2 separate regions of the Homo sapiens genome follow, and region 1 is linked to region 2. The links come from fine-mapping of genetic effects on plasma protein levels. Region 2 holds a variant in brackets. A gene starts in the other region. All regions are shown on their reverse strands.

Region 1 (5,306 bases), not on the chromosome of region 2:
CACTATCAGCATTTTGGGCAAAGCCATTCAGCAAGTCTCTAGGAAGTTCCAAACTTTCCCACATTTTCCTGTCTTCTTCTGAGCCCTCCAAACTGTTCCAACTTCTGCCTGTTACCCAGTTCCAAATTCACTTCCACATTTTTGGTATCTTTTCAGCAACGCCCCACTCTCCTGGTACCAATTTACTGTATTAGTCCATTTTCATGCTGCTGATAAAGACATACATGAGACTGGGAAGAAAAAAGGGTTTAATTGGACTTACAGTTCCACATGGCTGGGGAGGCCTCACAATCATGGTGGGAGGTGAAAGGCCCTTCTTACATGGCAGGAGCAAGAGAAAAAATGAGGAGGAAGCAAAAATGGAAACTCCTGATAAACCCATCAGATCTCCTGGACTTATTCACTATCATGAGAATGGCATGGGAAAGACTGGCCCCCATGATTCAATTATCCCCCTGGGTCCCTCCCGCAACACTTGGGAAATCCGGGAGATAGAATTCAAGTTGAGATTTAAGTGGGGACACAGCCAAACCATATCACCTACCTCTACAAAAAATACAAGAATATTAGCTGGGTGTGGTGGCGGATGCTTGTATTCCTAGCTACTTGTGGGGCTGAGGTGGGAGGATCGCTTGAGCCCAGGAGGTTGAGGCTGCAGTGAGCTGAGATTGCGCCACTGTACTCCAGCCTGGGTGACACAGCAAGATCTTCTCTCAAAAAAAAAAAAAAAAAGAATACAGTTATGCCCATTCATTGAGTTATAGTCTATGTCTCCTTTTGCACTGCAATGGCAGAGTTTAGTTGTGACAAGAAGTCAATGGTATTTACTATCTGGCCCTTTACAGAAAATGTTTTTTGACCCTTGTTCTTGGCTCACAAATGCTGAGACAACATGTGAAAAGCACCATGATAGAAAATATTTCTAAGGTATAATTATCAACATTTTTTTTTTTTTTTTGAGACGGAGTCTCGCTCTGTCACCCAGGCTGAAATGCAGTGGTGTGATCATGGCTCACTGCAGCCTCCACCTCCCAGGCTCAGGTGATCCTCCCACCTCAGCCTCCTAAGTAGCTGGGACTACAGGTGCGCGCCACCACACCAGGCTAATTTTTGTATTTTTTTAGAGACAGGGTTTTGTCATGTTGCCCAGGTTGGTCTCCAACTCCTGGGCTCAAACAATCTGCCCGCCTCTGCCTCCCAAAGTGCTGGGATTACAGGCATGAGCCACCCTGCCAGTCAGTGTCAACTCTTTGAAACAAAATAACCTAAAGGCAGCTGTATCCACACACATAAATTTATAAAAAATCTATCTTGAGGGGTAAATGGCTTTTCTTTTGAAGCTGAAATTCCTACTCACACACCTCTGAGCATTGCCCCTGAGTCTGGGTCAGATTTGTGTTCCCAGAGCATCAAAGGTGTTTGTAAGCAAGTGCACATGTCATTTGGTAACAGACATCCAGCACAGTTGAGAAAAGCTTTATATATAAATTATATTTTATCAATCCTTGATAAGAATCTTCAGCAAAATGACCCATGACCATTTCATGACTGTTATTCAAAGAACTGAATGTGATGTGACTTAGAGAAGTACTAACACTCATTTCAAATTTACCCCTTGGCCTCAGACAGGATTCCAGCCAGAACTCAGCCATGTGTGGTGCCAAGTGGAGTTAAAAACTGCACAGTGTCTTCTTGTTCCAGCCTTTGAGGTTGCTAAGGTCAAGGGTGGGCATGGGAACATGCCAGTCATAAGATGATTCTCCATCAGCTCTACAACCCCCTTCTACACTCTGCTATGTGGTGCCAGGTCTCAGCAGACCTCATTTCTGCTTTTTCAGCTGGCTTCCAGAAGGTTATGCCCATAGGGTCTGTCAGGGGGACACCGGAAGGCAGGAGGAGGGAGAAGGGACTGGCTCCTGCCTGCTGGCTGTTTCTTTCAGCAGTGCCACAGCAATGACTCTTCATCACTCTGATAGAATCAGCTGGCTCCAGTCTCCAGCATTTTTTTTTTTTTTTTTGAGACAGAGTTTCACTCTGTTGCCCAGGCTGGAGTGCAGTGGTGTGCTTCGCTCACCACAACCTCCACCTCCTAGGTTCAAGAGATTCTCATGAACCTGGGATTACAGGAGTATGGCACCATGTCCAGCTAAGTTTTATATTTTTTAGTAGAGACAAGGTTTCACCATGTTGGCCAGGCTGGTCTCGAACTCCCGACCTCAAGTGACCCACCCACCTCAACCTCCCAAAGTGCTGGGATTACAGGTGTGAGCCACTGCACCTGGCTCCAGTCTTCAGCTTTTCCACACACTCTTAGAGCCACCTGCATATCCAAGCAACACCCCCTTCCCATGGGTCTGAGTCCCAGCTTTCCAGGACCTCTCCTCCAAATTTCTAGTTCTGAGAATCCCAACCTAATCCGTTTGTTCCCCTAGATCGAGGCATGATGCCTACTTCCTAAAGGCTTTATCTCTGTGTTACCTCGTTTTCCCTTTCTGCTTTTTTCAGTTATCCCTACTGGATTAGCCAATTCCTTATACTAAATTATCTCTGGTGAAATACCTAGTAAACCTTGTGTTTTCCAGACTGGACCCTTACTGATAAGGCAACATGTCACAGAATCATTTGACACACAGGCATAAGAAGCAGAAAAAAAAAAAAGTGGATCTGCTAATGCACTTTTTTTTTTTTTTGACAGAGTCTTACTCTGTCGCCCAGGCTGGAGTGCAGTGGCACCATCTCGGCTCACTGCAACCTCTGCCTCTTGGGTTTAAGCAATTCTCATGCCTCAGCCTCCCAGGTAGCTGGGACTACAGGTGCGCACCACCATGCACAGCTAATTTTTGTATTTTTAGTAGAGATGGGGTCTTGCCATGTTGGCCAGGCTGGTCTCAAACTCCTGGCCTCAAGTGATCTACTTGCCTCAGCCTCGCAAAGTGCTGGGATTACGGGCATGAACCACCGTGCCTGGCCAAATTTTTTTGACATGGTCTCATTTTGCCACTGAGGCTGGAGCGCAGTAGCTCAATCTCAGCTCAATGGCCACACCTGGCTAATTTTTGTACTTTTTTTAGAGACGGGGTTTTGCCCTGTTGCCCAGGCTCCTCTCAAACTCTTGAGCTCAAGTGATCCACCAGGCTCAGCCTCCCAAAGTGCTGGGATTAGAGGCGTGAGCCACCACGCCTGGCCTTAATGCACTAACTTGCTCAGCCTCTTTGGCAAAAATTATTTCTCACAGAAGTAATGAGTAGAACAGTAGTTACTAGAGGCTGGGAAGGATAGGGGGATAGGGAGAGGTTGGTTAAAGTATACAAAATTACAGCTAGGTAGAAAGGATAAGTGCTAGTGTTTCATAGCATTGTAGGGTGCCGACAATTAACAATAATATATTATAAAGGTCGAGCACGGTGGCTCAAGCCTGTAATCCCAGCACTTTGGGAGGCCAAGGTGGGCGGATTGCTTGAGCCCAGGAGTTTGAGAGTAGCCTGGGCAACATGGTGAGAACCCCTCTCTACAAAAAATGCAAAAATTAGCTTGGCATGGTGGCATATATCTGTGGTCCCAGCTACTTGGGAGGGAGGCTGAGGTGGGAGGATCACTGGAACCTGGGAGGTGGAGGTTGCAGTGAGCTGAGATCGTGCCACTGCACTCCAGCCTGGGTAAAAGAGCGAGACCCTGTCTGAAATTTAAATAATAATAATAATTTATTATGTATTTTCAAGTAGCTAGATGAGAGGATTTTGAATGTTCTCAACACAAAGTAATGATAAATGTTTGAGGTGATGAATATGCTAATTATCCTATTTTGATCACTACACATTGTATGTATCCAAATATCACTATGTACCCCCATAAATATGTACAATCATTATGTGTCAACTCAAATAGTTAAAAAATATATTAAAAGAGGGAAAGGCAGAACGCTTCCTGAGAGCAAGGACCTCCTTTGTCGAGGTCAGGGCTGTGTCTTCAGCAACGAAACACTATCTGGGACTTAGTACATGCTTAAGAAATAGGTGTTGATTGACAGAGCTCCCAAGAGCTCCACAAGGGTCCCCCTAGGACTGTCACAGGTTCTTGTATGTCGGAGGGAGAGGTCTTCCCCTTCGTCTCCTTGGGGGGAGGGGAAGGTGTTGGGGAACAACTGCCCCTTCCTCTATCTCCCTCGCCCCTCCTTCCCCATGGCCCCCTCCCCCGTCCTTCTACCTTTCTCCTTCCCAGCCCTTTCCGGTTCTCCCCCGACCCTTCACGGCTCCTCTTCCCGCCGCTCCTCTTCCCGCCGCCCCTCTTCCCTCGCCACCTACCGCTGCTTTTCCTCCCATTCTCGCCCCGCCCCTTCCCCCGCCCTCCCCGCGCCCCGTCGCACGAGCGCTCCCTGCGAGTGGCGCAGGTAACAGACCGCAGGGGCAAGACAGCCGGCGCGGGAGGAGGATGGCGCTGTCGGTGCTGCGCTTGGCGCTGCTGCTCCTGGCAGTTACCTTCGCAGGTAGCGCTCGGAGCGGTCCTGGCGAGCGGGGACCTCCGGAGAAAAGCGGGTTTGGGAGTCAGACCGGCGGCGGACCCTGCCCTGCTCCGGGCGGCCTCGGCGACGGTACCCGCGCGCCCGTTACTGGCGGTTCCCCAGAGGACCTGCCAGGTGGAGGAACGCGAACTGGGGGTTGTGGGGGTGGCTTTGTGGAGTCAGCCACCCTCTTTAGTTCTTGCTTGGGCTTCGCTCCCAGCTCTAAGGACACCTGCCATCTAGAGCGCTTTCTCTGTTAAAGTAGATTTTCAGGTGCCCAAGATGAGGAGTTGAGTTTTTATGTATGGTCCCAAGGGAGGAGATGTGCAGGAATGAGGAATTGTGGATGCTTACGAGAAAGGGGCTTTAGTCCAACCACACTGGACACCTCTCTTAAAATGGAGTTAAAATGCTCACATCTTATATTAAATTTTGTATTTGTTACCCCGAGTTGTAAAGGAAAATAACATCATGAACTATTAATTAAGGGTTACTTCCTTGGCCAGGTGTAGTGGCTTGGGCCGGTAGTCCCAGTTACTCCGGAGGTTGAGGCGGGAGGCTCGCTTGAGACCAGGAATTGAAGCTGCAGTGCGCTAGCGCGACTTTTATTCCATAGCTTCAAAGTCCTTTCTCAACCAACCCTAATGGGAACAGAACCAAATGTTATTTCTATGTGCTTTTGGGGAGAGGTGCCATAAAAAACTGAATATCCTTTCTGGGGGAAGTGGGATGGGGACAGTTTAAAGAAGGTAGGCATTAGAGGGGAAAATAGAAGATGTGGCCTGGATAAATCCCAAACTGGATTTTA
Region 2 (5,366 bases):
AAGACTCACATACCCAGAAATAGCCTCTCACAGAGCTGAAAGGCACAGGCCATGTCCTGCCACACACGCAGGCGCGCGCGCACGGAGGCTGTCGTGGAGGGAGGCACACATACAGGGCGTCTGTCTGCACGCACATAAGCTGCCACGCCACAAAAGGGCGCGGACACACACGGCGTGTGAGACAAGGGCACACACAGCAGTGGACGCAGGGCCACGCCGCCGCCCGGGCACACCCACCGCCGCCGGCCCCGGGCAGGCGCGAGGCCTCGCGGGCCGGGCTCCCCCGGTTCCTGCCAGCGAATGTTTCCCTGCTCGGCCTGCCAGGTCTCTGGGGAAAGGGCCTCAGAAATGCAGCAGGAGCCGCTGGGGGAAAAGTTGGAACTGACTGTTCCCTGCCTGGCGCGGCCGGCGAATTCCCTGACGGAGAAACTATTTGTGGCGAGAGCCGGTGGCCGGCGACCCCCCGCCGCCTCCCCTGGCGTCCCCTCCCCGCGCCGCCTCCCGCGGGCCTCGGCGGCTTCGGGCTGCAGCACTGCTGCCCAGCGCCCGCGGCCGGGCTGGTCGGCGCGCCTCGCCGCTTATCTGCGCTGTTTGGACAGCGGGCTTGGAAAGGCAGGCGGCCCCGTCCCCGCCGAGTCAACAGGCAGACCCCGGGCCGCCGGACTATTTCTGTCTTATCAGTGCAGGAATGCGGCAGCCGCGGCGGCGGCGGCGGCGGCGGGCGGGCGGCGGCGGCGTGGGCCGTGGGCCGTCAGGGCAGCCCTGAAGGGGCCCCCTCCCCACTCCGCTCGAGTAGAAGTGTGAGAGAGCCCAGCAGGACTCAGAGGGGAGAGTTGGAGGAAAAAAAAAGGCAGAAAAGGGAAAGAAAGAGGAAGAGAGAGAGAGAGTGAGAGGAGCCGCTGAGCCCACCCCGATGGCCGCGGACGAAGTTGCCGGAGGGGCGCGCAAAGCCACGAAAAGCAAACTTTTTGAGTTTCTGGTCCATGGGGTGGTGAGTGGGGGAAAGTTAGCGGGGGAGGGCAAGCGAGCTGGCTCGGGCTGAATGGAGGGCTGATCGGGAGGGGCCGGGAGGGCGCTCCCGCTCTCCCACCCCTCTAGTGGGGGGCGTCATGGCCCACGGCCCGGCCGCGGGACTGTGCTGGCGCCCTGGCACCCGAACACGTCGCCAGGCGGCCGGCCGGGTCTGACGCGAGGCGGGGAAGGGAGGCGTTTGCATGGCTCTTGTCAGGGGCGGGGGTGGGACTTGGGGACTCTACCCCCCAAGTAGGGGGTCCTCGCTGTAGCCGACAGGTTGACTTTCGTTCTTTTCCTTGTGGGCCCAGGTGTTGCCCCTGCCCTGGGGGTGGGGGTGGGGGATGGGGACATGGCAGAGGCTGGGCTGGGCTGTCTGTTCATCCGTTGGGACAGTGTCACTGCTTGTGTCTCCGGAGCAAGGAGCAGGTGACCCTGGAGGCACTGTAGCGGGAAGCTCGCAGGCTGAGCCACCTCTGCATCCCAGCGGGAGGGCTCTGGAGCTTCTGCCTTAGGGTGGGGGAGAGGACCGCTCTAGGGACTTAGCCCAAGTTAGGGGCTCTGAGGGTCTCCTTGGCGGACTCAGCCACCAGAAGCTGATGTCCTTAACTCCTCGAACATGTGAAGGAAGGGGCTGGAGTTGGGGACATGAGGCCTAGAGACCGAAGGGACAGGGGAGCACTGTCCTGCCACAGGCAGGCTGTGAAGGCACGTGGGAGCCCGGGAGGCTGGAGCTGAGTCAGTAGGGCCCGGCTGGGAGGGGTATGGAGGGGTGGGGAATGGGAGAAGCAGGGGCTGCGACTCTTGGGATGGGTGAGGGAGTGGAGGCCCTGTGTAGAGGAAGCTGTCGGGTTTACTATGGCCAAATTTGGTTGTGACCCCAAGGAAGACACCCTCTCAGTAAGGCCAGAGTCCCTAGGATTTTGGCCTTTCATGGGGATGGGGCTGGTGGCGGGCACAGCTCTCTGGGGGCTCTGAAAGCCTCCCTCTCAGGGCCTCTTCAGCAGATGGGCCAGTATCCCTGGCCTTGATAACTGGGGAGAGCAGCTGACAGGAAGAGGGGGACTCCCTGGAGTGGCCTGTCCTCCAGCCCCAGGGACCCCTGGGGGTAACTTCCCAAGGTGTCCATGTCAGCTAGCTGAGTTACCAGTCCTAACCTGGCTGCTGGTGGGAGCCCCTTTAAAAAGGCCCATCTAGTGGGGAGAGGCTGTACACGTGGACTGTTTTTTTAATCTGGTCAACTTACAG[C/T]TTCAGTTCTTGAGTGGCTGTGAGCCCCAGTGCCCCACCTAGCTGGTGGCCAGGCCTGGGCTCCATTCTGGGCTGCTACCCTGGAGGCCTGAGTGACAGGGTCAGGTGGGGTGAGGGAAGCAGACACATGGACAGGCAGGTTTCACTGCAGGAGAGATAGGCAGAGACAGCTGCTGACCGAGGGTGGGAGGACATTAGGGTTAGACACAGAGCCTGGAGGACCAGGAGGGAGAGGTAGCAGTTGGAAGGAAAACAGCAAGCCCAAGGGGGCCCCTCCTCATGCCTGGGGGTGAGGTGGGTGGTGTGTCCATGTTAACAGTGCCAGGGTCTGCATCCCCTGCCCTCTGATCTTCTTCCTGCTTTCGTGGTCCCAGTCCCCATCCCACCCCGCTCTTTCTGTTTCACAGCCCCTGAAACTCTCTCTGGCCCTCCCCATCTCCCTTCTGGAGTCTGGACAAGTGGGGTTTGGAACACTTCGCTCGATGCATTTGCATCTCATTTACACCCCATCTGACCACCCAGGGGTAGTGGCAAGGGAGGAGGAGCCGCCTCCTCTCAGTCTCCACAGCCCCCATGAACCCTGACTGCTGACCTCACTGGGGTGGGGATGGGAAGAGGAGGAGGTGGCTGCTGACCTGGGCAGACAGGAAGGGAAATGTGAGTGCAAGTGTCACTGCCCTGACCCACCCCAGGCCCCCCTGGGCAGCCCACCTCTAACGCAGTTCCCCTCCTCCCAATCAGAGAATCCTGGCTGTGTCTGGGGCGCCCCAGCAGGCTGCCCTTGCCTGCCCTGCCTCCAGCCCTCACCCTGGGAGCAAATTATGGGGGCAGCTTGGTCAGCGAAGACCCTGGATGTGGGGACTTGGAGTCAGCCGAGGGGAGTGGGGTTTGGGACCCAAGGGTCAAAAGCAGGGACACAGGGAGCAGAGTGGCTGAGATGAGCTAGTGAGTACCAGGCAGAACCGCCCAAGAAGTGGAGCCTGAGAAGGAGGAGCAGGAGGAGGAGCAGAAGTCGGAGCAGGGAGCCGGGTACCGGACCTCAACCAAGCCGCAGAGAGCAAAGCCCTGGGCCCCCAGGAGGCAGCCCTTCAGGGGCTGCCTGGGCCAGGATGAGCTGTGTGACCTTGGCGAGGTCATTTTTCTCCTTGAGCCACAGTGGCCCCATCCGTCAAGTGGGGATGAAAGGACCTGCTCAGGCTGTCTTGCAGAGGAGCATGTGGATGTGAACATCTTTGAAAGGTTGAAAGGCGCCATTAATATTCATTTTTGCGGTACCTTCCGCAGCCCCGAGGCTCGCAATGCCCTGTGCGGTGCCTGGCTTCAGTTAGCTTCCTGCAGCCAGACGCCAAGCCCCTCCGCCAGAGCCGCGCAGATTCCGGCGCCCCTGCCCCTCCTACCCATCGCTCCCACCCATCGCTCAACGCTCAGGGTCACCAGCCGAGGGTCTGGTGGGGGAGGGGAGACGCCGGCTCACCGCGCCTGGAGCGGGGGGCCCTGGTCTGACCCACGGGCGCCCGTTTCTGCTTCACCCCCGCCCACCCCCAGCGCCCCGGGATGCCGTCTGGAGCCCGGATGCCCCACCAGGGGGCGCCCATGGGCCCCCCGGGCTCCCCGTACATGGGCAGCCCCGCCGTGCGACCCGGCCTGGCCCCCGCGGGCATGGAGCCCGCCCGCAAGCGAGCAGCGCCCCCGCCCGGGCAGAGCCAGGCACAGAGCCAGGGCCAGCCGGTGCCCACCGCCCCCGCGCGGAGCCGCAGGTGAGTGGGAGGCCCGGCGAGGAGGGGGCGTGCAGGGGCGGGCCCTGGGGGACCCGCAGGGACCAGGTAAGCGAGTAGCGGGGATTGGAAGGGGCGAGGAAGAATGATTAGCAGGGAGCGAGGCTTCCCGGGTCGAATGCCCTCTGGGGAGGTAGGCTTAGGGGGCACCGGCCTGATTCTTTTGTGTGCCCACGGTAGAGACAGGCTGCGGCGTCGGCAGCCGGTACCGCTTCCCTGCACGCTCCCCTCACCCTTCTCCTTGTCACCTGCTCAGTCCTTCTCTCCACCCATCAGGTTCTGGGTGATGCTTCAGTCTTTGGGGTGGGGGCGGGGCTTCCAGTGGGACTGAGGGCAGAGGTGTAGGACTGTGTTCCCCAAAGTGTGGTTCTCCGCTGAGCCTTCCTGCCGGCCCCCGGGCTGTTTCAAAGCCACTCCAGATTTTCTCAATGGGACTCTCTGACCATGGGGGTGGAGCTTGGGGATTTGCCCTGTGGGTAGGTGGTCTCTACCCAGTCCTGCTCTTAATTCTTAGGCACTCTGGCCCAGGTCTGCTCTCAAGCCACCAGGGCCAGCCCATTTCCTTGCTTTCCTCCAGCAGCTGGTGGCACCCTCAAAGCCCCTGCTGGCTCCTGGCAACAGCAGTGCCCCTCCGGGTTTCAGTATTTAGCCAAATACACATGCTTTTTTTGCACAACAGATGGGTTTCTATAAAAGGTGTAATATCAATTTTACCTCATTATTATTTTTTACACATCGGGGAAAAAATCACCACTTATAGGAATCCCATGATGAATTCTTTAGTAAAGTGCATCGTCATTTTGTACAGCAAATGGTAATTCCCTGATTTATCTTGTATAAATGGAGAGTTACACATAGATAATCTGTTTAAAACAAACCAGACCTTTAATGAAATCCGCTTGTTAGCCTTAGATTTCTGCATAGGGAGGGGGCAGTGCTTGAGAACACCACACGGGGGCAGTATGGAGCTATTCTCTGGGCTGCGTTTTCATCTCTTGACCCGCCAAGGTTTTTCTGGGGGTTTTTGGGTTAGTTAGAAGCAGCTAGTGGGTCAGAAAGAGCCCACATCCAGCTGCTACTACCCCGGGCCTAGTCAATTTGGCCTCAGCCTGAAGTCACACCCATGCACATTCTGGGCGCCTATGGCTGCAGCATGTCCCTCACCCTGTTGCCAGGTAGTCCCAGGGCATGAGTACCCCCAGCCCATCAGCGTTCTCTTCCAAGCCCAGGGTGGCTGGAAGGGGTGCAAGTCCCGCCAGCTTCACACCGTCACCTCCCGCTCCATGGATAGGAAGGAGTTCGTCTCTCTCCCTCCCTCTGAGCTTAGGCCCC

Which allele goes with the higher level. Alleles are on the strand shown, and positions count from the first base shown. The strength of an association depends on the size of the effect and on how common the allele is.
For the plasma level of the protein whose gene starts at base 4,390 in region 1, C is the low allele of the variant in region 2 and T is the other (moderate association).

What was found. A credible set is the group of variants that fine-mapping cannot tell apart. PIP is the chance, under the fine-mapping model, that this variant and not a neighbour inherited with it causes the effect. Protein levels are from antibody-based Olink assays in UK Biobank. Linkage for the fine-mapping came from a reference panel and not from the study's own genotypes, which makes the PIPs less certain.
Region 1: it holds the start of SPINK2, and the variant in region 2 is the best candidate, but not a certain one, in a credible set for the plasma level of the SPINK2 protein (UK Biobank, PIP 0.54).

Annotation. Positions count from the first base shown.
Region 1 is chr4:56,820,785-56,826,090 of GRCh38, reverse strand. SPINK2 (serine peptidase inhibitor Kazal type 2) reads left to right here and starts at 4,390. Exons shown (of 4, transcript NM_001271718.2): 1 at 4,390-4,633. The coding sequence starts at 4,429. RefSeq lists a silencer at 4,289-4,548.
Region 2 is chr7:151,244,110-151,249,475 of GRCh38, reverse strand. It overlaps SMARCD3 (SWI/SNF related BAF chromatin remodeling complex subunit D3), which reads left to right and starts at 782. Exons shown (of 13, transcript NM_001003801.2): 1 at 782-991; 2 at 3,805-4,016. The coding sequence starts at 914. RefSeq lists silencers at 122-211, 2,259-2,553, 3,628-3,707, 3,728-4,027 and enhancers at 2,541-3,114, 3,115-3,689, 3,690-4,263, 4,264-4,838. The variant C/T (reference allele first, on the strand shown) is at 2,260.